Regions from separate parts of the Homo sapiens genome. Here all the other regions are linked to region 1. Evidence: fine-mapped expression QTL. A gene starts in region 1. Each other region holds a variant in brackets. All regions are shown on one strand. Distances are from middle to middle.

Evidence for each region.
Region 2: its variant is fine-mapped to the expression of FOXK2 in whole blood (TOPMed, PIP 0.94).
Region 3: its variant is fine-mapped to the expression of FOXK2 in whole blood (TOPMed, PIP 0.97).

The regions. Positions count from the first base shown.
Region 1 is chr17:82,512,119-82,522,772 of GRCh38, forward strand. FOXK2 (forkhead box K2) reads left to right here and starts at 7,614. Exons shown (of 9, transcript NM_004514.4): 1 at 7,614-8,189. The coding sequence starts at 7,771. RefSeq lists silencers at 7,034-7,693, 8,144-8,323, 8,404-8,453.
Region 2 is chr17:82,589,343-82,597,342 of GRCh38, forward strand. All of the region lies in intron 8 of FOXK2 (forkhead box K2), which reads left to right. Among named protein-coding and RNA genes, the nearest start is that of FOXK2-AS1, 4.9 kb to the left of the region's middle. RefSeq lists silencers at 2,451-2,745, 3,858-4,058. The variant C/T (reference allele first, on the strand shown) is at 4,373.
Region 3 is chr17:82,599,056-82,609,328 of GRCh38, forward strand. It overlaps FOXK2 (forkhead box K2), which reads left to right. Exons shown (of 9, transcript NM_004514.4): 9 at 2,248-5,547. The coding sequence ends at 2,444. Among named protein-coding and RNA genes, the nearest start is that of FOXK2-AS1, 16 kb to the left of the region's middle. RefSeq lists an enhancer at 937-1,186 and a silencer at 3,967-4,076. The variant G/T (reference allele first, on the strand shown) is at 3,569.

The sequences.
Region 1 (10,654 bases):
GAGGCAGAGGTTGCAGTGAACTGAGATCGCACCACTGCACTCCAGCCTGGCAACAGAGCGAGACTCCATCTCAAAAACAACAACAACAGCAAAACTCTTTTATAGTTACCCACATAGCCACTTTCCCAGGCGTTCTTTATTTCTTGGTGCAGCACTGGGATTCCACTGGAGATCATTTTCCTCTGGTCTGAAGCATTTCTGTTTGTTGGCTGGCCGTGGTGGCTCATGCCTGTAATCCCAGCACTTTGGGAGGCTAAGGTGGAAGGATCACTCTAGACCAGCTTGGGCAACATAGTGAGACCTCGTCCCTATAAAAAATAAAAAATAGGCCAGGTGTAGTGGCTCACGTCTGTAATCCCAGCACTTTGGGAGGCCGAGGCGAGCGGATCACGAGGTCAGGATATTGAGACCATCCTGGCTAACATGGTGAAACCCCGTCTCTACTAAAAATACAAAAAAAAAATTAGCTGGGCGTGGTGGCAGGCGCCTGTAGTCCCAGCTACGGGAGGCTGACGCAGGAGAATGGCGTGAACCCAGGAGGCAGAGCTTGCAGTCAGCCGAGTGAGCCACTGCACTCCAGCCTGGGCAACAGAGCGAGACTCTTGTCTCAAAAAAAAAATAAAAGGGCTGGGTGCGGTGGCTCATGCCTGTACTCCCAGCACTTTGGGAGGCCGAGGCGGGCAGATCACGAGGTCAGGAGTTTGAGACCAGCCTGACCAACATGGTGAAACCCTGTCTCTACTAAAAACACAAAAATTAGCCAGGCGTGGTGGCAGGTGCCTGTAATCCCAGCTACTCAGGAGGCTGAGGCAGGAGAATCGCTTGAACCTGGGAGGCGGAGGTTGCAGTGAGTCGAGATCATGCCATTGCACTCCAGCCTGGGCGACAAGAGCGAGACTCCATGATAAAAAATAAATTAAAAAACAAAAAAAGGAATAAATTATATAATAATTTCTGTTAGTATTTTTTTGAAGGCTGAATCTTCTGGTGATAATTTTCAGCTTTTGTTGATCTGAAAATTTCTTTCATTACCGTTCCTTAATTTTTTCTTTTTTCTTTTTAATAGAGACGAGGTCTCACTATGTTGCCCAGGCTGGTCTTCAACTCCTGAGCTTAGGTGATCCTCTCACCTCAGCCTCCCAAAGTGCTAGGATTACAGGAGTGAGCCACTGCACCTGGCCACCTTTCCTTAATTTTTATTTTTTTTGAGGCAGAGTTTTGCTCTTGTCGCCCAGACTAGAGTGCAGTGGCACAATCTCTGCTCACTGCAACCTCCGCCTCCCAGGTTCAAGTGATTCTCCTGCCTCAGCTTCCCAAATAGCTGGGGTTACAGGTGTGCACCACCACGCCTGGCTAATTTTTGTATTTTTAGTAGAGATGGAGTTTCACCATGTTGGGCAAGCTGGTCTCGAACTCTTGACCTCAGGTGATCCACCCACCTCGGCCTCCCAAAGTGCTGGGATTAAAGGCCACTGCGCCTAGCCAATTTTTTTTATTTTTATTTTTGAGATGGAGTTTTGCACTGTTGCCCAGGCTGGAGTTCAGTGGTGCGATCTCGGCTCACTGCAAGCTCTGCCTCCTGGGTTCACACCATTCTCCTGCCTCAGCCTCCCGAGTAGCTGGGACTACAGGCACCCACCACTACGCCCGGCTAATTTTTTTGTGTGTTTTTAGTAGAGACGGGGTTTCACCATGTTAGCCAGGATGGCCTCTATCTCCTGACCTCATGATCCACCCGCCTTGGCCTCCCAAAGTGCTGGGATTACAGGCGTAATCCCAGGCGCGCCCAGCCATGCCCAGCCAATTTTTGAAGAACATTTTTGTTAGATATTCAATTCTGATCTCAATGACTTTGTTTTACTCTTAGCATTTTACGGATGTCAGTTCTTTGTTTTCTGGCTTCCATGGCTTTCGATGAGAAGTCAGCTGTCATTCTTATTGATGCCTCCATGAATGTATTGTACCTTTTTTTTTTTCAGACGGAGTTTCCCTCTTTTTGACCAGACTGGAGTGCAATGGTGCGATCTCGGCTCACTGCAACCTCTGCCTCCCAGGTTCAAGCGATTCTCCTGTCTCAGCCTCCCAAATAGCTGGGATTACAGGCATGCACCACCAGGCCCGGCTAATTTTGTATTTTTAGTAGAGACAGGGTTTTTCCATGTTGGTCAGGCTGGTCTTGAACTCCTGACCTCAGGTGATCCACCCGCCTCGGCCTCCCAAAGTGCTGGGATTATAGGCGTGAGCCACCGCGCCCGGCCGAATGTAATGTACCTTTTAAAGTCTGCCTCTTTTTAGGACTTTTCTCATTATCGTTGGTTTTCAGCAGTTGGACTATGATATGCTTTTATGTATTTTTCTTTGACTGTATCTTTTTGGGAGTTTGCTGAGCTGTTTGGATCTGTGGGTTGGTATATTTTCACCAATGTATAAACTTCTTACATATTATCTCTTTAAATATTTCCTCTGCTCTATTTTCTTTCTCCCTACTTCTTGGCAGTCAAATTTCACATTTATTCAACCATTTGATCTTGTCCCACAGGTCTCTAATATTCATTTCTGTTTTCTTTTTTTCTCATTTTCCTTCTTTCTTTTTATCTTGGAATTTTGATTCAGATTATTTCAACCGATGTAACTTTGAGATGAAAAATCTTGTCTTCAGCTGTTTCCAGTTTGGTGTTTAGATAATTCGATAAATTCTCCATTTCATATATTTTAGCTTTTTCTTTATACTGGTGAACTTAACACTAGTAAAGTTTACACACCCCCTAATCCTAAAGCCCTTACTCCTAAGGTGTTCCCTTTCTGGGGTCTCAACTGAGTGCCCAGGTTGGACCAAGATGCTTTACCTTTGCTGCCGTGTATCCCAGTCCTGTGTCCTCTGCGATCGCTTTTCAACTCCCTTGTAACAGCAGCAATCAAAAGAGGTTCAAAAATCAGAGTTAGGTTGTTGTAATAAAACTTCCTCTCGTTCTATTTATTTCTATGTATACATTAATGAAATAACAGGGATAATATTTATATACACCTGCCTCATTATAGCAATAAGCACTTTTCATCAGTGGATACATGAGTGAATTGTCAGCGGGGAAAAGCTCCAGACATGTTATTAAAAGATATGTCTCCAATGTAATTCAATTTTTTGGTCTTAATAAAAATTTACAGGCTGGGCACGGTGGCTCACCCCTGTAATCCCAGCGCTTGAGGAGGCTGAGGCGGATGGATCGCCGGAGCTCAGGACTTCGACACCAGCATGGGCAATATTGCAAAACCCCATCTCTGAAAAAATTCAAAAATTAGCTGGGCATAGTGGTGCACACACCTGTAATCCCACCACCACGCCCGGTATATTTTTAGTACAGACAGGGTTTCTCTGTGTTGGTCAGGCTGGTCTTGAACTCCCAACCTCAGGTGATCTGCCTGCCTCGGCCTCCCAAAGTGCTGGAATTATAGGCGTGAGCCACTGCACCTGGCCCTAATTTTTGTTTTTGTTTTTGTTCTTGTTTGAGACAGAGTCTTGCTTTGTTGCCCAGGCTGGAGTGCAGTGGTGAGATCTCAGCTCACTGCAAGCTCCGCCTCCCAGGTTCACGCCATTCTCCTGCCTCAGCCTCCCAAGTAGCTGGGACTACAGGCACCTGCCACCACACCCGGCTAATTTTTTGTATTTTTAAAAGAGACAAGGTTTCACCGTGTTAGCCAGGATGACCTCGATCTCCTGACCTCATGATCCGCCCGCCTCGGCCTCCCAAAGTGCTGGGATTACAGGCGTGAACCACTGTGCCCGGCCAATTTTTGTATTTTTAGTGGAGATGGGGTTTCACCATATTGGCCAGGATGGTCTCCATCTATTGACCTTGTGATCTGCCCACCTGGGCCTCCCACAGTGCTGGGATTACAGGTGTGAGCCACCATGCCTGGCCTGCCCATCTTTTTTTGTTGTTCTTTTTTTCTTTTCTTTTTTTTTTGAGACAAAGTCTCACTCTGTCACCCAGGCTGGAGTGCGGTGGCACGATCTTGGCTCACCGCAACCACCGCCTCCTAGTTAAAGCAATTCTCCTGCCTCAGCCTCCTGAGTAGCTGGGATTACAAGCATGCGCCACCACGCCCAGCTGATTTTTTGTATTTTTAGTAGAGACAGGGTTTCACCATGTTGGGCAGGCTGGTCTTGAATTCCTGACCTTTAGTGATCCGCCTGCCTCGGCCTCCCAAAAGTGCTGAGATTACATGTGTGAGCCACCACACCCGGCCTGTTTTTTTTTTTTTTTTTTGGTTAAATGATACACTTCCTATTTATCATTTCCATAGTCATCTCAATGTCCCCTAAAATCCCTCTAATATGGCCGGGCACGGTGGCTTACACCTGTAATCCTGGCACTTTGGGAGGCCAAGGCGGGCGGATCACTGGAGGTCAGGAGTTCGAGACCAGCCTGGCCAATATGGTGAAAACCCGTCTCTACTAAAAATATAAAAATTAGCTGGGTGTGGTGGCACACGCCTGTAATCCCAGCTACTCGGGAGGCTGAGGCAGGAGAATCGCTTGAACCCAGGAGGCGGAGGTTACAGTGAGTAGAGATTGGGCCACCGCACTCCAGCCTGGGCAACAGGGTGAGACTGTCTCAAAAAAAAAAAAAAAAGGAAAAGAAAAAAAAATTCCTCTAATATATAAGTGAATATTTAATGAAACAATTTTTTCTGTCTAGGAAATCCTGCCAGAACACTTTGCACCTGTAGGAATTTGTACTATAATTACAAACACATATATGGCAATTAAGACATGTAAATGTAGGTCGGGCATGGTGGCTCACGCCTGTAATCCCAGCACTTTGGGAGGCCCAGGCAAGTGGATCACGAGGTCAATAGATCGAGACAATCCTGGCCAACAGGGTGAAACCTCGTCTACTAAAAATACAAAATTAGCCAGGCGTGGTGGTGAGCACCTGTAATCCCAGCTACTTGGGAGGCTGAGGCAGGAGAATCACTTGAACCTGGGAGGTGGAGGTTGCAGTGAGCCAAGATCGCACCATTGCACTCCAGCCTGGGCAACAAGGGCAAAACTCCACTCAAAAAAAAAAAAAAAAAAAAAAAAGACATGTAAATGTTACATTCAGAGGGACACATTAATTTCCATTTCTTTTAGAAAAAGTTTTTACACATTGAAGGAATAAAAATGCATGAACTGACCCTGATGTCTCCTGCCTGGGGCCCCCAGTTGGTGGTTCCTGTTCAGGATCTCCACTTTATCCTGCTCCGTTTAAGTCCAGTCTCAAGTCTTTCTACTCACACTAAACTCCTTTTGTACCTACATTATGATGATGATGATTATTTTCGAGACAGAGTCTGGCTTTGTCACCCAGGCTGGAATGCAGTGGTGCAATCTCCGCTTGCTTACTGCAATTTCCGCCTCCCGCGTTTAAGCGATTCTCCTGCCTCAGCCTCTCAAGTAGCTGGGATTATAGGCACGTGCCACCACACCCAGCTAATATTTGTATTTTTAGTAGATATGTGGATTCACCATGTTGGCCAGGCTGGTCTCCAACTTCTAACCTCAAGTGATCCACCCACCTCGGCCTCCCAAAGTGTTGGGATTCAGTCATGAGCCACCGTGCCAGGCCTCTGTACCTAAATTATATCATTTCTCTCTTCTAATTGTTCTTTGCTATTTAACAAGCAGCAAATAGAGGAACCCTGGGGTGTTTGCTATAACCTGTATATATAGGCTATAATAGGATCTTCTCCTCACACACCCTGCAGGAACCACCATGCTGAAAGAAGTGAGACAATTCAGGGGGCAGTCCCTCCCCAGCAGAGACTAAATTGGTACCATTTGTTGCTATTTCAGTTTTGCGAAGATGCGCGCTTGGAGCCCAAGCCATGGTTTCTAGGGCTGACACTGACTTCCCACGGAATTCTTCCTGTTTAAGAGGTTGTAGACTTTTCATGATCCTGAACCTTGAACGTCTCCACAACTGGTTAAGTACCCGTGAGATACATTTACAGGATTTTTTCTTTCTTTTCCCAATTTTTTTTTTTTTTTTTTTTTTTGAGACGGAGTCTCCTCTGTCACCCAGGCTGGAGGGCAGTGGCGTGATGTCTGCTCACCACAACCTCCGCCTCCCAGGTTCGAGCGATTCTACTGCCTCAGCCTCCCAAGTAGCTGGGACTGCAGGCACGCCCCACCATGCCTGGCTAATTTTTGTATTTTTAGTAGAGACGGGCTTTTACTATGTTGGGCAGGCTGGTCTTGAACTCCTGACCTTGTGATCCACCCGCCTCGGCTTCCCAAAGCACTGGGATTACAGGTGTGAGCCACCGCGCCCGGCCACAGGATTTTTTCTTTTTAATGTTAGGAGTTTCATTGATTAGTGAACATCTGGACTATTGATCATCTTGATTTAGATGGGATCTTGTAATTTTTTAAACGGTGGCGAAATTCTTTTTTTAAAAACTTAGTATCAGATTGGTTAAGATATTAACTATTCGTTCATGAGAGTTCATATATATATAGTTCATATATATATAGTTCATATATGTATATAGTTCATATATATAGTTCATATATATATAGTTCATATATATATAGTTCATATATATATATATAGTTCACATATATATAGTTCATATATATACATATGAGACGTAGTTTCACTCTTGTTGCCCAGACTGAAGTGCAGTGACGCGATCTCGGCTTACTGCAACCTCCACCTCCCAGGTTGAAGCAATTCTCCTGCCTCCGCCTCCCAGGTTTAAGCAATTCTCCTGCCTCAGCCTCCTGAGTAGCTAGGACTACAGGTGTGCACCACCACACCCGGCTATTTTTTTTTTTTTTTTTGTATTTTTAGTAGAGCTGGGATTTCACCATGTTGGCTAGGCTGGTCTCGAACTCCTGACCTCAGGTGATCCGCTCGCCTCGGCCTCCCAAAGTGCTGGGCTTACAGGCGTGAGCCACCGCGCCCGGCCTCGTGTATATTTTTAAACTGTGTGCTGACGACAGTTAAGTAAATGTGATTCAGAACTTCTGCGTATTTTGCAGGACAGTTTTGACACAATGACATGACTCGCTAGCCAGGAAAGATAACGACATCCAGTCCTGGAGCTGCTGGTTAAAAACGAACGTGTCACCGGGTCCCCTGGGTCTGAGGCCACGCGGCACGCGGCCCCTCCGCGATATTCCCGCACCTCGCGGGGAAAAGGCCGCTCGGCGGCCGGGCCTGGGCTCGCGGGCCGCCGCCTATCCGCACCCCGGCGTCCACGCCGGGTTGGGGGCCGCTGCGTGCCTGGCGCCCGCTGTGACCTTGGGCCTGGTCCCGCCCGCCGCGCCTAAGGCGCTGCCAGGCCGGGCTCAGACCCCCGAGCTCCCGCGCCCGCGCCAACCCCGCGCCAGCCCCGATCCCGCGCGGGCTGCCGACTGTCCGCCCCGGGTTTTCCGCGGCGCCCGGAGTCGGGACTGCGTCGGGCGTCGCCGCCGGACGTGCCGGCAGCTTGGTGCGACGTGTCTTGCCATTGGCCTGCTTCGGTAGCCCCACTGCCGTACGCCGCCCCCATTGGCCGGCGTAACCGTCCGTCAGCGAGGGGCGGGCCCGGCGTGCCGGCTCGGTGGCGCGGCCGCGCGTGCTCCCGCCCCTCGCCGCCGCTCGCTCGCTCGCCGGCCGGCGGCCTCCGCTCGGCCCCCTCCCTCAGCTCCGGTGCGCGGCGGCCGACGACCCGCGCGGCCTGGGCCTCGGCCCGCGCCACCGGCGCCCGCGCGGAGCGGCCCGGGGGCCCTCACGCAGGCCCATGGCGGCGGCCGCGGCGGCGCTCTCGGGCGCGGGCACGCCACCCGCGGGCGGCGGGGCCGGGGGCGGCGGGGCCGGGGGCGGCGGGTCCCCGCCGGGCGGCTGGGCCGTGGCGCGCCTGGAGGGCCGCGAGTTCGAGTATCTGATGAAGAAGCGCTCGGTGACCATCGGCCGCAACTCGTCGCAGGGCTCGGTGGACGTGAGCATGGGCCACTCGAGCTTCATCTCCCGGCGCCACCTCGAGATCTTCACGCCCCCGGGCGGCGGCGGCCATGGCGGGGCCGCTCCGGAGCTGCCGCCCGCGCAGCCCAGGCCCGACGCCGGCGGCGACTTCTACCTGCGCTGCTTGGGCAAGAACGGGGTATTCGTGGACGGCGTGTTCCAGAGGCGCGGGGCGCCGCCGCTGCAGCTGCCGCGCGTGTGAGTGGCCTCGGGGCGGGGCGGGCGGGGTCTGCGGCCTGCAGCGCCTGGCAGGACGGGACGGGACACGCGCCCAGGCCCGGGACCACCCACGAGCGGGGGCCCGACTCTCCCACAGCCGGGACCACCAGCGGGACCCAGGCCCCGGCTGGATCCCAACCCTCGACAGCCCCTGGCCCCGACCCCCGTCCTCCCGGTCCCCTTCCTGGCAGGTGCAGCCCCCCGTCTTTCCCCCTTCCTGGAGCCGGGGCTGCGGGCGGCTGCGCGCGCGGGTCAAGGTTTCTGGGTTCTGTGCGTGCGGGGAGTTCACGTGTGCTGTTTCTATTCTGCAGCGAGGTCGCGCTGAACAGAAATGTGAAAACGGTGTGCGGTGGGAGGAACTGCCCCGAACTAAAATCTATGTCTCTTAACCGATGAAGGGTTGTCTGTTGTCTTTTGTTGTTGTTGTTGTTCAGTCGTTTTCAGTAGTGAGCTGTTTCAAGAGTGCGGTGTTTTAAGCAGGAAGGACTCCTTTTTCCCTGCCGTGTTTTCAGTAGGCCAAATTGGAAGACGCTTCAAGCATGATGGATTTTCAATCTGTGCTCTGAACCTTAAAATTTAGGGAAAACTAGATGCTTTTCGCATAACTTCTACAAAAAGACAGTTGATTAGGAATTATTACAAGGTCATGTAGAGTGTTAAGTCAGCCTGATAGGGAACTGCCTATCCTGCTACAAAACAATTTAGCTTGGTCCTGTGGTTTTATGAAGTTATCGTTTACTCTGCTTGAAACACAAACTTGCTGTCTAGGAAATGCTAATTATTCCTCAGGGGCTCACTTCTAGATCATTGCAAGTACAGCCTTTGTCCACACAAACTGGAATTTTTTTGTTTTTTGTTTTTTGAGACGGAGGCTCACTTTGTCGCTCAGGCTGGAGTGTAGTGGCGCGATCTTGGCTCACTGCAATCTCCGCCCTTTGAGTTCAAGTGGTTCTCCTGCCCCAGCCTCCCGAGTAGCTGGGATTACAGGCGCCTGCCACCGCGCCCGGCTAATTTTTTGTATTTTTAGTAGAGACGGGGTTTCACCATCTTGGCCAGGCTGGTATTGAACTCCTGACCTCGTGATCCACCCGCCTCGGCCTCCCAAAGTGCTGGGATTACAGGCGTGAGCCACCGCGCCCGGCCTACAAATTGGAATTTTTAACGCTTTCGGTTGTTGGAGATGCTGGTAAGAGCTGTTGCTTTTCTTCTTGACTTGCGTGTTGTGTGTGTGTGCATGCGCTGTTCTGTTTCTTAGCATGGAAAGGTGCACCAGCATATTCCTTAAACTTTGGTAGTAGCATTTTAAAGAATGTTATTTTCAGGCCGGGCGCGGTGGCTCACGCCTGTAATCCCAGCACTTTGGGAGGCCGAGGCGGGTGGATCACGAGGTCAGGAGGTCGAGACCATTCTGGCTAACACGGTGAAACCCGTCTCTACTAAAAATACAAAAAAAAAAAAAAAATTAGCCGGGCGCGGTGGCGGGCGCCTGTAGTCCCAGCTACTCAGGAGGCTGAGGCAGGAGAATGTGAACCCTGGAGGTGGAGCTTGCAGCCAGCGAGATCGCACCACTGCACTCCAGCCTGGGGGACAGAGGAAGACTCCGCCTCAAAAAAAAAAAAGAAATTTTCAAATGAAAATGCTATTTATGTGTGTTTATACTGTAGACGGTATGAAATCAATGGTAGGGTCCTAATGGCTACCCTTTAATCTGACTTTTTTTTTTTTTTTTTTTTTTTTACAAAATACTGTGTCACAACAAAGGAAGTTTGCGTCTACTGTGAGGATCTTGAGTTTTTGTTTGTTTGTTTTTGATTTTGAGACACGGTCTCTGTGACCTAGCCTGGAGTGTACTGGTATGATGACAGCTCACTGCAGCCTCAAACTTCTGGGCACAAGCGATCCTCCTGCCCCAGTGCTCAGGAGTTTGAAGTTGCTGTGAGCTATGATTGCACCACTGCATTCCAGGCTGGGATTACAGGTGTGAGCTATGATCTCACCACTCCTCCCACATACCTGGCCAAGATTTTGAGTTTTTTGGAATTTTTTTTTTTTTTTCCTGAGACGGAGCCTTGCTCTGTCCCCCAGGCTGGAGTGCAGTGGCGCAATCTCGGCTCACTGCAAGCTATGCCTCCCGGGTTCACATCATTCTCCTGCCTCAGCCTCCCGAGTAGCTGAGACTACAGGCACCCGCCACTACGCCCAGCTAATTTTTTTTTGTATTTTTAGTAGAGACGGGGTTTCACCATGCTAGCCAGGATGGTCTCGATCTCCTGACCTCATGATCTGCCCGCCTCGGCCTCCCAAAGTGCTGCGATTACAGGCATGAGCCACTGTGCCTGGCCCGATTTTGAGTTTTTAAAGAAAATTCTCCTCACCATTCAGCCAGAACGATTTGTATTGAATTGAATTCTGCACATGCTAACATGATAAACATGGAGATAAGT
Region 2 (8,000 bases), 76 kb after region 1:
ATACTTTAGGCTTAAATGTCATTTATTAGTCATATCTTTTCTCTGCAGCAATAAAATATAGATATAAATATTAAAGTTTGTCTATGAGTAACAAAATTGATAAAACCCAAAAATATAACAAATTCTTATAAAACCAAAAATTAAAATGTTACTGAAGATGCCTTTCTTAGTGTATTTAGCTTTAAAGGAAACCACCTGATTCGTTCTGTATTCACTGATGGTTGCACAGTCCTAGTGTCAACACTGAGGGCCTGTTTCCACTCAGGAAGGAGAGGACAGTGTCAGCACTGAGGGCCTGTTTCCACTCAGGAAGGAGAGGACAGTGTCAGCACTGAGGGCCTGTTTCCACTCAGGAAGGAGAGGACAGTGTCAGCACTGAGGGCCTGTTTCCAGATGAACGTGAAAGTCTGTCAGTGATCTTGGCTGGGTGTGGTGGCTCACGCCTGTAATCCCAGCACTTTGGGAGGTGGAGGTGGGCGGATCACTTGAGATCAGGAGTTGGAGACCAGCCTGGCCAACATGGTGAAACTCCGTCTCTACTAAAACTACAAAGATTAGCCGGGTGTGGTGGCACATTCCTGTAATCCCTGCTACTCTGGACGCTGAGGCAGGAGAATCGCTTGAACCTGGGAGATGGAGGTTGCAGTGAGCCGAGTTCAGACCACTGCACTCCAGCCTGGGCAACACAGCGAGACTCCATCTCAAAAAAAAAAAAAAGTCTTGTCAGCACCAGTATTTCCTATTATTGCTTTCATGCTCCATCCCATAGTTTTCATCCCCAAAGCCAGTGCCCAGTTGAGCAGATGAGAGAGGCTGTTCAGAGAGAGGAGGTGGCAGATGGGCTTTAAGAAAAGACTTCAGGACCAAGAGGAGATTCTGGAAATGATTTTCCTTAAAACAGTGTCGGCTACAGCCTGGATGCTGAACACCTAGGATGAGAACCACTGCACAGGTGCTCATAATTTTGGCCTCTTGTAGTCTTTTATTTTTTATTTGGGAGGTAGTGTCTCACCATGTTGCCCATGCTGGTCTCAAGCTCCGGGGCTCAAGCAGTCTGCCCACCTCGGCCTCCCAACGTGCTGAGATGACAGGGTGAGCCACCGCCTCTGGCCAGCACGTCTTTTCATGTACTTTATGGTTATTTGTGTATCTTCTTTGAAGAAATTTTTTTTAAGTCCTTTGCCCATCATTTAATTGGGTTGTCTTTTTGTTGTGAAATTTGTAGTTCTTTATTCATATGTAGAGATTTCAGGCCTTTTCAGACATGTAGGTGTAACTCAGAGACATTGCAGGGTTGGTTCCAGACCACTGCAAAAAAATGAATATTGCAGTAGAGCTGCCAGTCACATGAAATTTTTGGGTTCCTACTATATTAAGCAATTATGTTTATACTAAATTGTAGTGTAGTGTATTACCCCAAGGAAAATGTAGTATTTTTACTGAGGAATTATGTGGATGTGGCCGAGTTTTCTGACCCAAGCATGGGGTTAGAATGTCCTGTGCAGGGAGGGACTGCACAGGCTGCCTGAGACTCTCCCAGGGGTACCAGAGGGCTCAGCACCACGAGCAGATAGGCCGAGGCTGGGCTGCCTGCCCTAAGGGGGTTCCATCCTCACCCTGGCCCCAAGGGCAGCCTGGGCCGGTTCTGCCTCTGCCACCAGCTGCTGTGGGACCCGGGGCTCAGGGCTTGGCCCCTGCGTGTGTCGTGAAGACAGTGCTGACAGATGGGAGGTGGGGCTGACAGGACGAGGGGTCAGGATGTTCCGGCCATGCACTGTAGCCCTGGCCTTGCAGGACAGCAGGTGGCTTGGTGGGATGATAGGTGAGTTCCGTGGGCAGGCGCAGGGCATGAGCTGCCAGTGTCTTCCTGGAAGGTGACTCTGGGGTTGTCGCTCCAGCTGGAGTGTACCCTCATTCCTGCTTCCATAGGGGTCTCCATGGAGGCCTCATTCAAACACAGGCGAGCCCATCCCTGGCCTGTCAGGTTCACCAGGGTGGCCCCTGGTCCCGTTGTCGCCGTTGTCCACACCCTGCCCACCTGCCAATGCTCCTGTGTCCCCTGCTCTGCTCCAGGGCCCCAAACCCTGTGCAGAGCTGGGGTGCATCATGCTGCCGCCCCATGGAGAAGGCCTGGAGGAGATGGAAGCCGGGAGGCTTCCTCTTACAGGAAGGGAAGCCCCAGAAATGTGCCTGGCACCAAGAAACTGCTCCAAGCTTGTTCCAGAGTGTGGGGAGGGCTTGAGGCCTCCCCTTTTTGAGTACATGGAAAGGAAAGCCTGGCATTTTCTGGAAACGCTCCCAAGTCTCCCTGGCAGGGAGATGTGGGAAGAGTCCAGGCGCCCAAGCTCTTGCATATTCACTTCCTCCCATCACACGTGCTGTGTACAAGCACCCTCAGAGCTCGCTTTGGGAGACCCCTGCCTCAGGGCTGCGGGTGCCGCCGTCCACACCACAGGCCCTTCTGCTTCCTGTTTCCAAAGCTCATCTCCTGTCTCTGGGCTGCAGGCGCTGTTTCTGGTTTACTGGCACAACTGTGGTTGTGTTTTTGTCAATGACTTCATCTTTGCTGCTGTTGTTTTGAGATACTGTCTTGCTCTGTCACCCAGGCTGGAGTGCAGTGCCGAGATCTCAACTCACTGCAGCCCCGACCTACTGGTCTCAAGCCATCCTCCTGCCTCAGCCTCCCAAGTAGCTGGGACTACAGGTGTGCAGCACCACATCCAGCTAAGTTTTTGTATTTTTTGTAGAGACAGGGTCTCACTATGTTGCCCAGGCTGGTTTCAAACTCCTGGACTCTGGTGATCCTCTAGCCTTGGCCTCCCAAAGTGCTGGGATTACAGGTACGAGCCAGCATACCCAGCCAGTGTTGTCGTTTTGATTTGGGAGTTCGGGGCTGAGCTGTGTTTGGCCAGGGCCTCGCCTGCTCAGTGTGCTCCTGGGCTGAGCTGCGGTCCTGGAGCATCTCTTGGCTCACATATTGACTCCTCCGGCCTCTCTACTGTCCTGGTCCTTCATGGGGCTCACATGTGTGTCCTCTTGTTTTCTTTCTGTCACCTTCTTAAGGGTTCACAGATCACTGTCAGTGGAAGGTGTTGCCACAGCTCAAGCCTCACAGTGGAGGAACCTCATGAGGCCCTTCACGGGGCCACTCCCTGTCTGGACAGGCCTGCCTGACCAGCCCTGCTGGGAAGCCTGGGCTTTGCTGCTGCTTCACCCTGCGACATTCTCCTCAGGCCCTGCCTTTCGCTTCTTTCGTTAACATTGTTCCTGCCTTGATCGTTTGCTCCCTCCTGCCTAACTCTGCTCTTCTTCCTTGTGTAGCAGTTACGTGGTCCTCAAATATCATTTGTTGACTCCAGTGTTTCCTGGGGCATCTCCTCAAGCTGGCTGGGGTTCTCTGCATCTCAGCTGTGGCGCCTGGTGTGAGGGCGCACGCTTCGCAGTGAGAGTGAAATGCCCAGTTCGCGCTGGCAGAGGGAGACCCTGTGAAGGTCTCCCTGTGCCAGGCACAGGCTCTTATTCTGAAAGCAGACCCCGTGAAGGTCTCCCTGTGCCGGGCACAGGCTCTTATTCTGAAAGTAGACCCTGTGAAGGTCTCCCTGCGCCGGGCACAGGCTCTTATTCTGAAAGCAGACCCAGTGAAGGTCTCCCTGTACCGGGCAGAGGCTCTTATTCTGAAAGCAGACCCCGTGAAGGTCTTCCTGTACCGGGCACAGGCTCTTATTCTGAAAGACCCAGTGAAGGTCTCCCTGCGCCGGGCACAGGCTCTTATTCTGAAAGCAGACCCCGTGAAGGTCTCCCTGCACCGGGCACAGGCTCTTATTCTGAAAGCAGACCCAGTGAAGGTCTCCCTGTGCCAGGCAGAGGCTCTTATTCTGAAAGCAGACCCAGTGAAGGTCTCCCTGTGCCAGGCAGAGGCTCTTATTCTGAAAGCAGACCCTGTGAAGGTCTCCCTGTACCGGGCACAGGCTCTTATTCTGAAAGGGTACGCAGCAGTTTCTGGAAGGAAGGAAGGAGGGAGGGAGGGAGGGAGGGAAAGAGGAAGGAAGGAAAGGAGAGCGATAGGCACAGAGGAAGGTAGATGAAGCCCCGCGCCCCCCTGGCGGAGCCCAGCCCTGTTCACCGCGTGCTGTGCGGGTGCCTGTGCCAGGATCAGCTGGCTGGACGGCTATAGCCCCACGCCTGCAGGCCACATACCTGGGAGAGTGTGGGCCTTCCGAGCCTTCTGGCTCCCGGCCCCACAGAGGAATTACGGTCCCATGTCCCTCACAAGGACCCTTGCAGAGGGAGCAGTGCATCGGCACAGAGCAGGACACAGGGGAGCCGGGCTGAGGCTGCGGGTCCCTTGTGGCCGCCAGGTGCTCACGCGTGC[C/T]TCGGTGGGGATCTGGCAGCCAGATTTGGGGTGAGGATTTGATGATGTGGGTATCCCTAGCTGGTCCCACAGTGACGATGGGTGTTGCGTTGTGAGCATGTAAAACGGCAGTGACGTCTGAGGGTCCCTGGACGTCTTTCACACCCAGCCTCAAAGCGGAGCCTTTCCAGGCAGAGCAGCAGCTGCCGCCACTGGATTGACAGCCCCAGAGCAGCGGGATCAGGCCACGCGGACGAGGAGGTGCGAGGCCTCGGGTCGGGGCCTGTGTTCTGCGGGAGCCGCACCCATCATCGCTGTGGCGGTGGCAGTGGAGCAGCTGCTCTCGTGTCTGAGCTGCTCCGGCGTCTCTGTCCACAGTATAGGGTCTTCTGATGCTTCCTGGAGGTCTCGGAGGGGCTTGCTGCGTGTAGTACCCACACAGCCCACAACTGGGGTGTTGTCAAGTGTTATGACGTAGGTTGCCTGTGGAGTAAAAGTTGGCCGCTAAGAAATGCTCTAGACAGGCCGGGCACGGCGGCTCACACCTGTCATCCCAGCACTTTGGGAGGCCGAGGCGGGCGGATCACGAGGTCAGGAGATTGAGACCATCCTGGCTAACACGGTGAAACCCTGTCTCCACCAAAAATACAAAAAATTAGCTGGACATGGTGGCGGGCGCCTGTAGTCCCAGCTATTCGGGAGGCTGAGGCAGGAGAATGGCATGAACCCGGGAGGTGGAGCTTGCAGTGAGCTGAGATCGCGCCACTGCACTCCCGCCTGGGCGACAGAGCGAGACTGTCTCAAAAAAAAAAAAAAAAAAAATGCTCCAGACACTTCAGTTTGAAAATATTGGAATTTATGTGGGGAGGATTAGTGTGCATGGAAGGCCAAAAATGTGAATGCATCTCCGCAGTCATCTTTCCAAAAGCCGCCCTCTGAATCAGTGAGGACCCTCAGGGTGGGGAACGTCCCCTTGTGAGTGTCTGCAGATTGGAGTAGGCAGCAGCGGAGCCCGTCTCTGTAGATGGACTCGCAGAGGAACTTAGTTCTTTCCCTAAAGGAGTAGGAACAGCTGGGCGCCGTGGCTCACGCCTGCAATCCCAGCACTTTGGAAGACCAGGGTGGGCAGACTGCTTGTGCCCAGGAGTTCAAGACCAGCCTGGACAACATGGTGAATCTCTGTGTCTACAAAAAATCACAAAAGTGGCTGTGGCGGCAGCACCTGTAGTCCCAGCCACCAAGAGGCTAAGGCAGGGAGATCGTTTGAGCCAGGGAGGTTGAGGCTGCAGTGAACCGTGATCGCCCCACTGCACTCCATCCTGGGAGACAGGGTGAGACCCTCTCCACATAGTAAGTAAATGGAGGAATAGAAACGCAAGCCGGCATACATTGTCTTTGACAGCATTTTGTGGATAGGCAAGTTCTAACCATGGGGGCAACGTGGGATGCAGCAGGGTTTGGTGTGCCGTGGGGCAGGGGTAATTTGCTTGTTTCTCTAAGACTTTGTACAGCTCTGTAAACAGATTCCCATTAGGTCGTCCTTTCCTTGTGACAGGTAATAGTGGAGGTGTCACAAGGTAAGTGGCCTGTCTTGCCTGGTTTTCAGGTTCTACGGCTTTTGTCTTGTTTTTTGAGAAAGGGTCTGTCACTCAGACTGGAGTGCAGTGGCGTGATCACAGCTCAGTGCAGCCTTGAACTCGTGGGCTCAAGTGATTCTCCTGCCTCAGCCTCCTGAGTAGCCAGGACTACAGGCACGTACAAACATGTCCAGCTAATATTTTTTTTCTTTTGTAGAGATGGGGTCTTACCGTGCTGCTCAGGCTGGTCTCAAACTCCTAGGTTCAAGTGATTCTCTCGCCTCTGCCTCCCCAAATGCTGGGACTACAGGTGTGAGCCACCGCGCCCAGCCTTCTCCTTGTGTTTGAACTGGAGAGGACAGAGTGCTATACATGTGGTCACGGTTTTTCTTCGTTGAAAGCTCTAACAGTGGGGTCGGTCCCTGTTATTAAGCCTGTGTCACTATTCCCTGGGCCCTAAAAGTGCACCTGGCTCCTGTGACTTGGGGTCCTTTCCCACTCCTCTCCCCAGGGCCCCTTGGCCTCAGAAGGCCCCCATGTGCCAGCTCAGACTGGAGTTGCCTCAGTTGACACAGCAGGCCCCATCCAGACAGACCAGCAGGTGCTTCTGGAGACAAGAGCAAAGCCTTTTCCGGCAGCCCGGAACCTGGGATGAGAAACGACAGGTGGAAGGTTGTCCAGAGACACCTACAGCGTGGATGCTGTTCCGAGTCAGCGTAGGAGAAAGGCCACTGGAAACCAGAGTCACACTGCGCGTCTGTGCATCTCTGGCCTACCGCAGTGGCCCCGGCTGTCTGCACATTTTTTGTAGACACATTAGAGTCGGTTGAGGCCACACCTGCGGCCACAGACTGCGACCGCGATTGCAGGGAGGAGCATCTGAGGTGGTCACGGGGTTTGCCCAGCTCACACCAACTGCAGGTCAGTTCCTGCTTCGCCTTCAGTAGCCTGAGTCCCTTCTTCTTTTTCTTTCACGTTACTAGGGCAGTTGTTCGCTGACGCCTTAATTCTGGAACACGTTCCTTGCCCAGATTCTTGGTGGCTGCTTGTTCCCTTCTCATCGTTCCTGCTGTGTTTTCCATGCTTGGTGTAGGGGGACCCTCAGAGCTTGGTGTAGGGGGAGCCTCAGAGCTTGGTGTAGGGGGAGCCTCAGAGCTTGGTGTAGGGGGAGCCTCAGAGGTGGCGTCAGGACGTGCCTGCCCCACCGGTTGCCCTGGTGCCCTCGTCACGCCCCGGGACCGCGCACACGTGGGGACTGTTTCCAGACGCACTTTCTGCGGGCAGTCTGTGTGGCAGGGCTCCCTGCCCAGCTCCTGCAGCCTCATCAAGTCTCCCACTAAGGAGGTGTCGCTCCTCCAACTTTGTTCTTTTTAAAAATCGCTTCAGCCATTCTAGGTCCTTGGCATTTCCGCGTGAACTGTAGGATTCCTACACCAAGCCTGCTGGCGTCTTGATTGGGACGGTGTTGAATCCAGAGTGTGTGGCAGAGCTGGCGGAGCCCCTCTTTCTTTGATCTCTGCCGATCTCCTTGATTTCACGTTTGTTTTATTCCACAGACCACCCCCTCCCCATCTTCTCACCTACTTCAGGTTCCATTTCATGGTAGGAAATTCCTGTAGTCCTCCCGGGCTTGCTGAAGTGCTGCTCCAAGTTACAGTCCCCGGGTTGTCAGGCGTGGCGAGAGCCCCTTGTGCTCAGAGCTCTCACGGAACACAGAGCAAGCCTGTCTACGAGTTCAGCCGGTGAGGGGCAGGGGCTGGTGAAGGCGGCGGCGCCTCTGGGTGTGCCCAGGGGCAGGGTCGCCTCCAGGCCCCACGCGCTAAGCCGTGACTCCCTGTAACACACCCGTGTCGACACAGGTCACGTGGGCCCGAGGTGCTCATACATCACACTCCTTGTCCAGGATGGTCCTTCCTGGCACCATGTGGTCCTCGGTGCAAACCAGAGTTTGCAGTGCTCGCTGCACAGACCCTTCTGCCTTATTCAGCATCTTTAGATCAACAGAGTCAGTGCCTTCCCAAGAGAGCACGTGTGGGCCTCATCAGGAGCATGTGCCCAACTCGTGTGTGTGT
Region 3 (10,273 bases), 87 kb after region 1:
CTGCTTTGTGGCAGCCGTGCTTTCTGGAAGCTGAGCAGCTTCTTTTTTTTTTTTTTTTTTTTGAGACGGAATTTCTTTGTCCCCCAGACTGGAGTGCAATGGCACGATCTCAGTTCACTGCAGCCTCCGCCTCCTGGGTTCAAGTGATTCTCCTGCCTCAGCCTCCCGAGTAGTTGGGACTATAGGCCCCCACCACCTTGCCCGGCTAATGTTTTTGTATTTTTAGTAGAGATGGTGTTTCACCATGCTGGCCAGTTCGAGACTGGTCTTGAACTCGTAACCTCAGGTGATCCTCTCGCCTCAGCCTTCCAAAGTGCTGGGATTACAGGCGTGAGCCACCGCACCTGGCCTCTTGTTCATGTTTTATGTGTAAATTGGTCCTCTGCTATTTCTGTTGCTCAGAGGTGGAAAGGAGAAGGGAACACGATAAAGTCACACATCCACACTGTTGACAGGGGTTTGGCTTCCAGGGAACACACCTCTGTGGCCTCAGGGCTATGTCCTGAATTCTAAAACGGGGCTCTCACGGCTGACCCGATGTCACTGGGTCCCCGTTTGCTGCTTGAGTCTCTTCGGAGCCCAGTGTTGACTCCCGCTCTTCGTGGCTGCCCCGGCTATCTGGCCATGAGGAGCTGACCACGCACCTGGCCGGACTCACATCCGCTCCGCTAGGGAAGACCTGGGGGCGGAGGTCGGTCTCTGACCAGCCAGCGTCCCTGCAGGGGACTGCGAGTAGGAGGCGGGTATTGCCCACGCCAGGGCCTGTGGTCTGAGAGGGCTGGCCCTTGACGGACAGGTGGGCAAGTCCCCCTCCCACATCTCTAGGCACCAGGGCGTAGCGTACCATGTGTGCTGTGTTTGTGGTTGGGTTCAGGTACTGCCCTGTAGGCGTGTCTGCTCTGAGCCTCCTGGGACAGCCTGAAGTGGTTGCTGCACAGCTGCTTTGGGGCCTCCCAGGGGTGTGTTCCTGCTCCCACCCTGGGGTGCTCTGAGTTGGTCTTGGGTTAGAGAAGTGCAGTGGCTGGTGTGTGCGCAGCCTAGGGGCCTAGGACCTGCTTCTCAGAGCATCACGGGGCCCACCAAGAAGTGCCCCCTGGGGAGGTGACAGCGTCTTCCAGAAATGCCGCCGCCCACAAGGAGGACTGGCCTGTGCCGGAAGCTGGAGATGGTGGGGTCCTGATGGCACCTGGTAGGTGAGGGTGCCCCAGAGAAACAGAGCCAAGGCGGCGGCCTGGAGACAGATTCTGTGGAATCTGCCCACTCTGTTGTGGGGCCTGCCAAGCTCAGCATCTGCAGGGTGGACCGAACCCCGGGGAAAGAGTCAGTGCTGGATTCTCAAGAGTCCAGAGGCCATCCAGGGCAGAGTGCTCCCCTCAGAGGACCTCAGTCTTTTCTTAGTCCTTCACCTGATTGGATGAGGCCCACCCACTCATGGCGATCAGCTGATTTACTCAGAGCTGACTGATTTAAATGTTAATTTCATCTAAAGAAGTAACTATACAGAAACATCCAGATTAATGGTTGACCAAAATCTGGGCACTGTGGCTCAGCCAGGCTGGCACATAACATTACCCATCGCATGTTAGTTGGAAGCTTGGCCTTTGGAATTAACTCAGCCTGGTCAGCCGTTAGCAGCCAGCAGTCTCTGTTCTGCCCACACACCTCTGTGGACTGACCCAGGACACAGGTGAGCAGCATCCATGAGAAACTGTGGTGCTTCTCTCCTATGGGACAGATGGAGCCCCGCTCCCTTCTGTGTGGAAATGGTCCAGGAGCATCTTGTGCGGGTGGTGGGGGGGCGAGGGCAGGGCCTCCGCATGAGGGAGAGCAGCGAGCGGCAGCCACTCCTTCGCCGAGCCAGCAGGGCCATCTCCTGTCTGCCTCAACCACTACTGGACTCAGCCTTTCTCCCCCAGCAGTGACATCAAAATAGCCTATTTATAGGACATAACAAAGATGATGCCAGCTGTTAATAAAAATGTCCGCTAATCAGGCAGTTCACTTGCTGCAGTTTTTTGGGGTCCCAAGGGCCCAGCCCAGGCTCCTGTGCCCTTGGCCACCGTGGGCCAGTCCCTGGGGTCTTGTGGGAGCCTCCGCGGGCCTGGGAGTGGCAGGACCCTTAGAGGGCGAGAGTTCACATGAGAGCGTGGGGTTCTGACTCGCGAGGGTTCACGTGAGAGCGTGGGGTTCTGAGTCGCGAGGGTTCACGTGAGAGCGTGGGGTTCTGACTCCCTCGTGTCATTTCAGCCGCGGCGAGTCCTTTGCACATGTTGGCAACACACGCATCCGCATCGGCCTCCCTGCCCACAAAGCGCCACAACGGTGACCAGCCGGAGCAGCCGGAGCTGAAGCGGATCAAGACAGAAGACGGCGAGGGCATCGTCATTGCCCTGAGCGTGGACACGCCACCGGCAGCCGTAAGGGAAAAGGGTGTCCAGAACTAGCGACCGGGAGAGCTTTTCTTTAACGATATCAACTCTGTGGTGCCAAAAGGAGACGCGGCCTCCCGCCAGCACTCGGGGGTGCAGGGCCCTGTGGTTGGACTTCACCTCTCAGCACTGAAAACCCAAAACCCAGCTGGCCTTAACACTCCTTAAAGACAGAAGTCACACTTGAACAAAACCCACACACAACAAAACCTGATTTGGGAGACGGTGTCTCCACTGAGCACCTGCTGGGCTGAGCTTCTACCTACGAGTGAAACTCTGTCCTCCCGCGAGGACCAGGCATCGCTGTGTGAGGACGGCACGGCCAGCGCCTGCTGTGAGTGGGTCTCCCAAGACTAGGCCTCAGGACGCGGGGGGAGCCATCCCCGCCGCCCTCACAGGACCCACCAGGCAGCGGAGACATGTGGAATTAGAGTATTTTGAGGTGTCCTTTCTTTACAAAATAATGGGGTCTTGGGCATTTCACATCACTCCATTTCTACTGAGACTTTCAGAATCACACAGGCCCTTTCCGTGGATTTCATTTGGGGCAAAGAAACAACGTAGTTTTGTTTTTGTTTTCAGCCTATGGAATGATTTCCTTTTGTCTGTCTTGTTCAAGTTCAGACGAAGCTACTCTGGCATCTGCACATTTCCGTGTTACAGCAGCTGCCTGATGAATTTTATCCACCTCCATTTCAGCATGTGGCTCGCGTGGACAGGTGGACGGACGCTGTGGCCGCATGGAACCTTGAGAACCCAGGGACGAGCCAGTGCCGGGAAGGAACTGCCGGGACTCACCGAGCTGCACTTAACTGTTCTCTTTCTGGCTATTTTTTGTTGTTTGTTTCTTTGTGTTGACTTTGTCCCTGGCAAAATTTTCCACTCTGAGTAAAACAAGTCTCCTAAGTATTGTGTATGTTTAAAACGACAGAACCATTTCTACTTCATTTGGAAAAAGATTCAGTCTTTTATCACAGGCCCTTTTGAAACTCAGATCCCAGGTCTCTCCGTGGTATGTTTGTATTTGGGGTGTCCCTCCGGCTCTAGGCGGCCTCTGACCTGCTGTCTACTCCCCACCTTCGGTGAGCGGCCGCCATGGTGGAGCAGGGTCCGAGCCACGTCCTGCAGGGCACGTCTGG[G/T]GCATTTCCTGTTTTGTGGTAGGAAATGTCCCTGACCTTTCAGAACCGAACCCAATCCTGAGGCTGACTCCTCTACGGAAAATGAGGACAGGACGGGGGTGAGGGAATGAGAGTGGGAGGTCCCTGCACCTCCTCGCCCGGCTCCTCAGGAAGAAAACCGCTGGCCCTTCCCGAGTGTGCCGGCCGAGGGCCGAGGGCCGTGCACATGGGGAGAGGGCGTCAGCCTGATGGCTGAGCTTTTAAATGTCATCATCATAACATTATTTATTTAAATGTAGTTATTTTGGTATTTAATTTTTTTTTAGAGAGGAAAAAACCTGTATTTTCCTGGTGGGATGAAATAGGGATGAAATGGCTCAGAATGGTATATTTAGGCAATTTTAAAACATTTATTATTTACATAAAGACCAAATATGATGAATCTGTTCCGTGAATTGTGTCGGCCCTCAGCATGGGGCTGGGGCAGCGTCACTGCGGTGACGCCCATTGAAAGGTATGAAATGACTGCACACTAGCTGGATTATCACTCAGCCGTTTAAGAAATAAAAGCAAAACCATCACGTGACTGAGACCGTGTGTGTGACCGCAGCAAAGCGCAGCGTGTGGATGGATCAGAGCCCCTCGGTGCAGCTGTCTGCATCTTCCAAGCACTTTACAGATACCTTGGAATGTATATTTTTGTCTTCTTACTCAGAAGGTTTGCAGTTTGTAAAATAATCAGGATTCTGCTCTGTCCTGTGTGTGGGGTCAGCTCCCTCCACAGAGGGCTCCAGCTCTGTTGGTCACAGCTGATGGGGTTCTCTGATTGATAGGAGACGAGCTCTTGAGCTCTAAGGAACAGTGAGGTCGCCGGTGGGGAGCTTGGCTGGGACACCAAGCAAATGCATCGTATGTCCCCTTGGAGACGTTTTTATGCAGCTGTGTATGTTACTATCCAGAAGGAGTCGGGGGTAGACTTTCCCGTGTAAGCTCAGTCCATAAACTGGTTACTTCTGATCCTGGAACGTGGACTTCACATGATAGGTCTGGATCTGTTTCTGTTGGGATCACAGGTAAGGAAAATGTCCATTCAAATGGTAAAGAAGGGAGGAGGGTGTTTTTTTTTTTTTTTTTTGCCGTAGGCACCATTCTGCATCTTGAACCCAGACTGAAGTGTGCCTCTCACAGATGGAAGGTGCACACGCTCCTGTCTCCTCCTCACTCTGCCACGTTCACTTGGCTTTTTCATTGGTACCTAGGAATTTAAGAATATCGAAGCGAGAGCAGTAACAAACCATAGATGAGCAGACTCCCACACCGGGTTTTCTTGCCCGTCTTTAAGGCACTGTTTCTAAATTTTGAACTTAGCTCTGAATCCCCAAGAACTTGAGCACAGCAAGGGTTGCTGAGCTGCTGTCGCCGCAGCCCTGGCCCCTGGTGCTGGAGCTGCAGCACCTTTGGGAGAGGTCCTGCGTCGTCCTCAGCTGCGTCGCTGTGAACTCCCGCTCTCCACTGTGTTCCTCAGTGTCTGCTTTTCAGGAAGTCTGCTGTGACCTTTGCCCAACTTCTGAGCTCCTCAGGGACTAGGAACAATTTCAGTAGCTTTGCCCTGAACCAAACGAGAAAACAAAAGGGAACTCCCGTATGACCCACGTCACGTGGTGCACTCAGAGTGTGTGCGGCATGATCCTCGGTTGCTCCTCCTCTCACTTTAGTAGAGTACGCGGTGGACAGCTGATCTCCTTCAGTCGTCTACCCACTTCCGTCATTGTCCTCCGCTAGAATAACAGAGTAGTTGGTAGTCATGGCCAGAAGGGGGGTGGGGGCAGTGTGAGGACTTGGGGTTTCTGTGCTGTGTGACACAAGGAGATAAGTGACAATCTTGAAGTCCTAACTTCCACTATTCTAGAAAGTATAGTGGTGATTTGTGTGCAAAGATTTGAAGTTTTAAAAAAGTACCAAGTTCCTGAAATTCAATAAAATATTTTTATTAATTTTAATGGAATGCAGAGTATCATTTTCATTTTGATTGACTGACTTTTTACTTCATGCTCTCTTCTGAGCACACCGGAGGCCTAGCGCATTGGCAAGAACTTAACCAGGGAGCTGCACTGAGGACCAGCACTGCAGGCCCTGCCAGTGGGACAGCGGGTTGAGCGTGCAGGTAGAAAAGGCGCCGTGTCACAGGCAGTGGTAACAGGGTCTTGATTGATTGATCTATGATGTCGGAGTTTTAAAGTTACTTGGAGATTGTGGCTGCCACTATTTCTTCTGCAGACTTTCTCTCCAACCTGAGAATGAAGATCACTGCAAAGCATCTTGAGGGACATTTTCTCAGAAAATGAAAAAGCAGCTCTTGGCCGGCGCGGTGGCTCATGCCTGTCATCCCAGCACTTTGGGAGGCCGAGACGGGCAGATCATGAGGTCAGGAGATTGAGAACATCCTGGCTAACATGGTGAAATCCCATCTCTACTAAAAATACAAAAAAAATTAGCCGGGCGCAGTGGCGGGCGCTTGTAGTCCCAGCTACTCGGGAGGCTGAGGCAGGAGAATGGCGTGAACCTGGGAGGTGGAGTTTGCAGTGAGCCGAGATTGCGCCACTGCACTCCAGCCTGGGCGGCAGAGCGAGACTCCGTCTCAGAAAAAAAGAAAAAGCAGCTCTTCTGAAGAGGTACTTGGGTATTCAAGTTCCCACACAGGAACACTTTGATCTTCAGGCCCTGAAAATCTGGTGTGGATCGCTAATGTCTGGAATCGTGATGACATTATCAGTACTCACCCCAGGGTAGCAGAGGGAAGAAACCGTGCTGAAAATGACACAGAGGCCTTTGGGAGCTAAATGATGTTCACGGACAGAGAGTTCATAACGGAGTGTTTGTTTTATTCCTTACACTGATCCCCTAATTTAAAACAGTTCATACTGGCATAAAAGAACTGTTTATCACGCCCTGCGAGACTGCCTCTTCCAGCAAAGTGAAGCAGTCATTTGTAATTTGTTTCTGCCAGGTCTGCGTCTGCAGTGCACCCGGGCTGCGTTGATGGGTGCTGGGAAATTGTCACTGTTTGTTGCCCCCTTTCTGAGCTATGTCCACAGCAACACAAAATTACAATTCAGAGTGGGTCTCAAGTGACCTCTGATGACTAAACTGGCTACAAAGATTCCAGTGGACTCCTCCACCTGTGTCTCCTAGGGGTTATGACTAACTGTGGACCTAACAAACAGAGCAACTATCTCAGTCCTATGGAAAGTCAGTCGTATATAATACAGAACAGCAGGCAGACTAGAGCCAGAACAAGGACCGGTGTGATGGGTTTTTCCTGGGTTTTCCCCTCCCATTGCTGAGCCTAGTCCGTTGCTGGGCCTAGTCGGGGGCGGTCTATCCGAACTGCACATTAGGGATGAACATTAAAATCTCCAAGAGAAGCCCGCTTCCCTCTCATCCTGGGCAGAGACGGTCGTGGGAAACTCCTGCAAGCAGCAGCCCTGCAGACACTGGCGACTCCCACAGAGCCCTTCACGCTGGCGACTCCCACAGAACCCTTCACGCTGACGAGAGGAATTGGAAAACAGGCCCCTGTAGTCCAAAGAGCATGAGGGAAATCCCTGCTCCACTTTGGCCCCAAGCTGGACCTAGTCATAGGAATGGGAACAGCACAGAGAGGCTGAAACCTGGGCTTTTAAGTCAAAGGACACAGCAGAGGAGTTAAGAGACCCCCTAAAGCTCCACATGAATGGCACTGACGTGGGGAAAACAGCAAAGGCTATTTGAGCTCAACTCCTGTGTAGACTGGCCCCTGGGTGAACAGCACGACACAGACTTGGAAGACTAGCCTGACACCAGAGTCACAGCTCCAGGAGGCAGGCTGGCACATGCAATCAGAACATAACTGGGTTACTTGCCTGCTGAGACACAACTCAGCATCCTGCAGAGGGTTTCATGGACTTGGGAGTCTCAAGGTATGCCGAATGTCTAGAATACAAAATTACTAAACGTAAAAAGAGCCAGAAAAATCTCTGCCCTAAAGTGAAAAGACCGAATGCCAACTCTCACATGACCCAAATATTGGGAATATCAGATAAAGAACAGTTATTATAACCATGCTCTGTGAAATAAGGGCAAATGCTCTTGAATCAAAGAAATGAAAAAATTCAGTGAATAAACAGAAAAACATTTGGAAACAAAAATGAACTGGGACTTGTAGGACAAGATTGAAGGGTCTACTGTGTATGTCACTAGATTCCTATAAAACAGAGAAACAACGTATACAATTTTTTTTAAAGAAATATTTTAGTCCGGGTGGGCGCGGTGGCTCATGACTGTAATCCCAGCACTTTGGGCGGCCGAGGTGGGTGGATCACGAGGTCAGGAGATCAAGACCAGCCCGGCCTACATGGTGAAACCGCATCTCTACTAAAAATACAAAAATTAGCCGGGCATGGTGGCACACACCTGTAATCTCAGCTACTCGGGAGACTGAGGCAGGAGAATCGCTTGAGCCCAGGAGGCGGAGGTTGCAGTGAGCGCAGATTGCGCCACTGCACTCCAGCCTGGGCGACAGCGAGACTGTCTCATTTAAAAAAAAAAATACATATATATATATTTTTTTAATTTATTTTTATTTATTTATTTTTTTGAGACGGAGTCTCGCTCTGTTGCCCAGGCTGGAGTGCAGTGGCACGATCTCGGCTCACTGCAAGCTCTGCCTCCCAGGTTCAAGCGATTCTCCTGCCTCAGCCTCCGGAGTAGCTGGGACTACAGGCACCCACCACCACGCCCGGCTAATTTTTTGTATTTTTAGTAGAGACGGGGTTTCACCGTCTTAGCCAGGATGGTCTTGATCTCCTGACCTCATGATCCGCCCGCCTCGGCCTCCCCAAGTGCTGTGATTACAGGCGTGAGCCACCGCGCCTGGCCTATATATGTGTGTGTGTGTATATATATATATATATATTTTTTTTTTTTTTTTAATAAATACTTTAAAGATTCACGAAGGTGAGTGAATTCCAATAAGATCATCTCAAGGAAAACCATGTTGAGGCAATAAACTAAAGAAAAGACATTTTTTTTTTAACCTGGAAAGCAGCCAAAGAAAACTGACTTATCCAGGTTGAGTATTCCTAATCTGAAAACTCAGTAATCTAAAATCCGAAACTTTGAGTGTTGACACGATGCTCAAAGGAAATATTCATTGGAGCATTTTGGACTTCAAATTTTTGAATTAGGAATGCAGGGCGGGGCACAGTGTCTCATCCCAACACTTTGGGGGGTCGAAGTGGGAGGCTCACTTGAGCCCAGGAGTTGGAGACCAGCCTAGGCAACTTGGCAAAATCCTGTCTCTACTAAAAATAAACCAAGTGTGGTGGTGTGCACCTGTAGTCCCAGCCACTCAGGAGGCCCAGGCGGGAGGATCGCCTGAACCCAGGAAGCTGAAACTGGACTGAGCCGTGACTGCACCACCACACTCCAGCTTGGGCAATGGGAGTGAGACCTTGTCTCAAAAAACAGACAAACAAGGATGCTGAAATGGAAAGTACACTGCAAATATTCAAAAATAAAGATTAAAAAAATTGCATTCTGAGGCCGGGCGCAGTGGCTCACGCCCGTAATCCCAGCACTTGGGGAGGCCGAGGTGGGCAGATCACGAGGTCAGGAGATCGAGACCATCCTGGCTAACACGGTGAAACCCCGTCTCTACTAAAAATACAAAAAATTAGCCGGGCGTGGTGGCGGGTGCCTGTAGTCCCAGCTACTTGGGAGGCTGAGGCAGGAGAATGGCGTGAACCCGGGAGGCGTAGCTTGCAGTGAGCTGAGATCGCACCACTGCACTCCAGCCTGGGTGACAGAGCGAGACTCCGTCTCAAAAACAACAACAACAAAGTAAATGTAAAGCAAGCAGGCAACAAAATTGAAAAAAGAAATCAAAATTGAGGGGAAAAAATAAAACTTTTTTTTATTTGTAGAGACGGGTCTTGCTATGTTGCCCAGGATGGTCTCGAACTCCTGGACTCAAGCTATTCTCCTGCCTTGGCCTCCCAAAGTACTGGGATTACAAGCATGAGCCACCATGCTTGGCCACTTCTAATTAAAAAAAAAAAAAAAAAAATAGAAAACAGGCTGGGTGTGGTGGCTCACGCCTGAAATCCCAGCACTTTCGGAGGCCAAGGTGGGTGGATTACCTGAGGTCAGGAGTTGAAGACCAGCCTGGCCAAGAAGGTGAAACCCCATCTCTACCAAAAATACAAAAACTAGCCAGGTGTGATGGCACGCATCTGTGATCCCAGCTACTCAGGAGGCTGAGGCAGGAGAATCACTTTGAAGCCAGGAGGCAGAGGTTGCAGTGAGCCGAGACCTCGCCATTGCACTCCAGCCTGGGTGACAAGAGTGAAACTCTGTCTCAAAACAGAACAGAACGAAACACACAAAGGAATAAGAACAATGAGCCATTCATGAGGTTGGGGCAGGGGACATAGTGACAGAAACCATCCTTGAAGAAGCCTGGAAATTGGACTTACTAGACAAACACTTTGTCTTAAATATGCTCAAGGGGCTGAAGGGAACCAGGACAAAGAAGTAAAATAAGAACAAAGCCAGGTGTGGTGGCTCACGCCTACAGTCTCAGCACTTTGGGAGGCTAAAATGGGGAGACAGCTTGAGCCCAAGAGCTCAAGACCAGGCTGGGCAACATAGTGGGACTCTGTCTCTACCAAAAAAAAAAAAAAATCA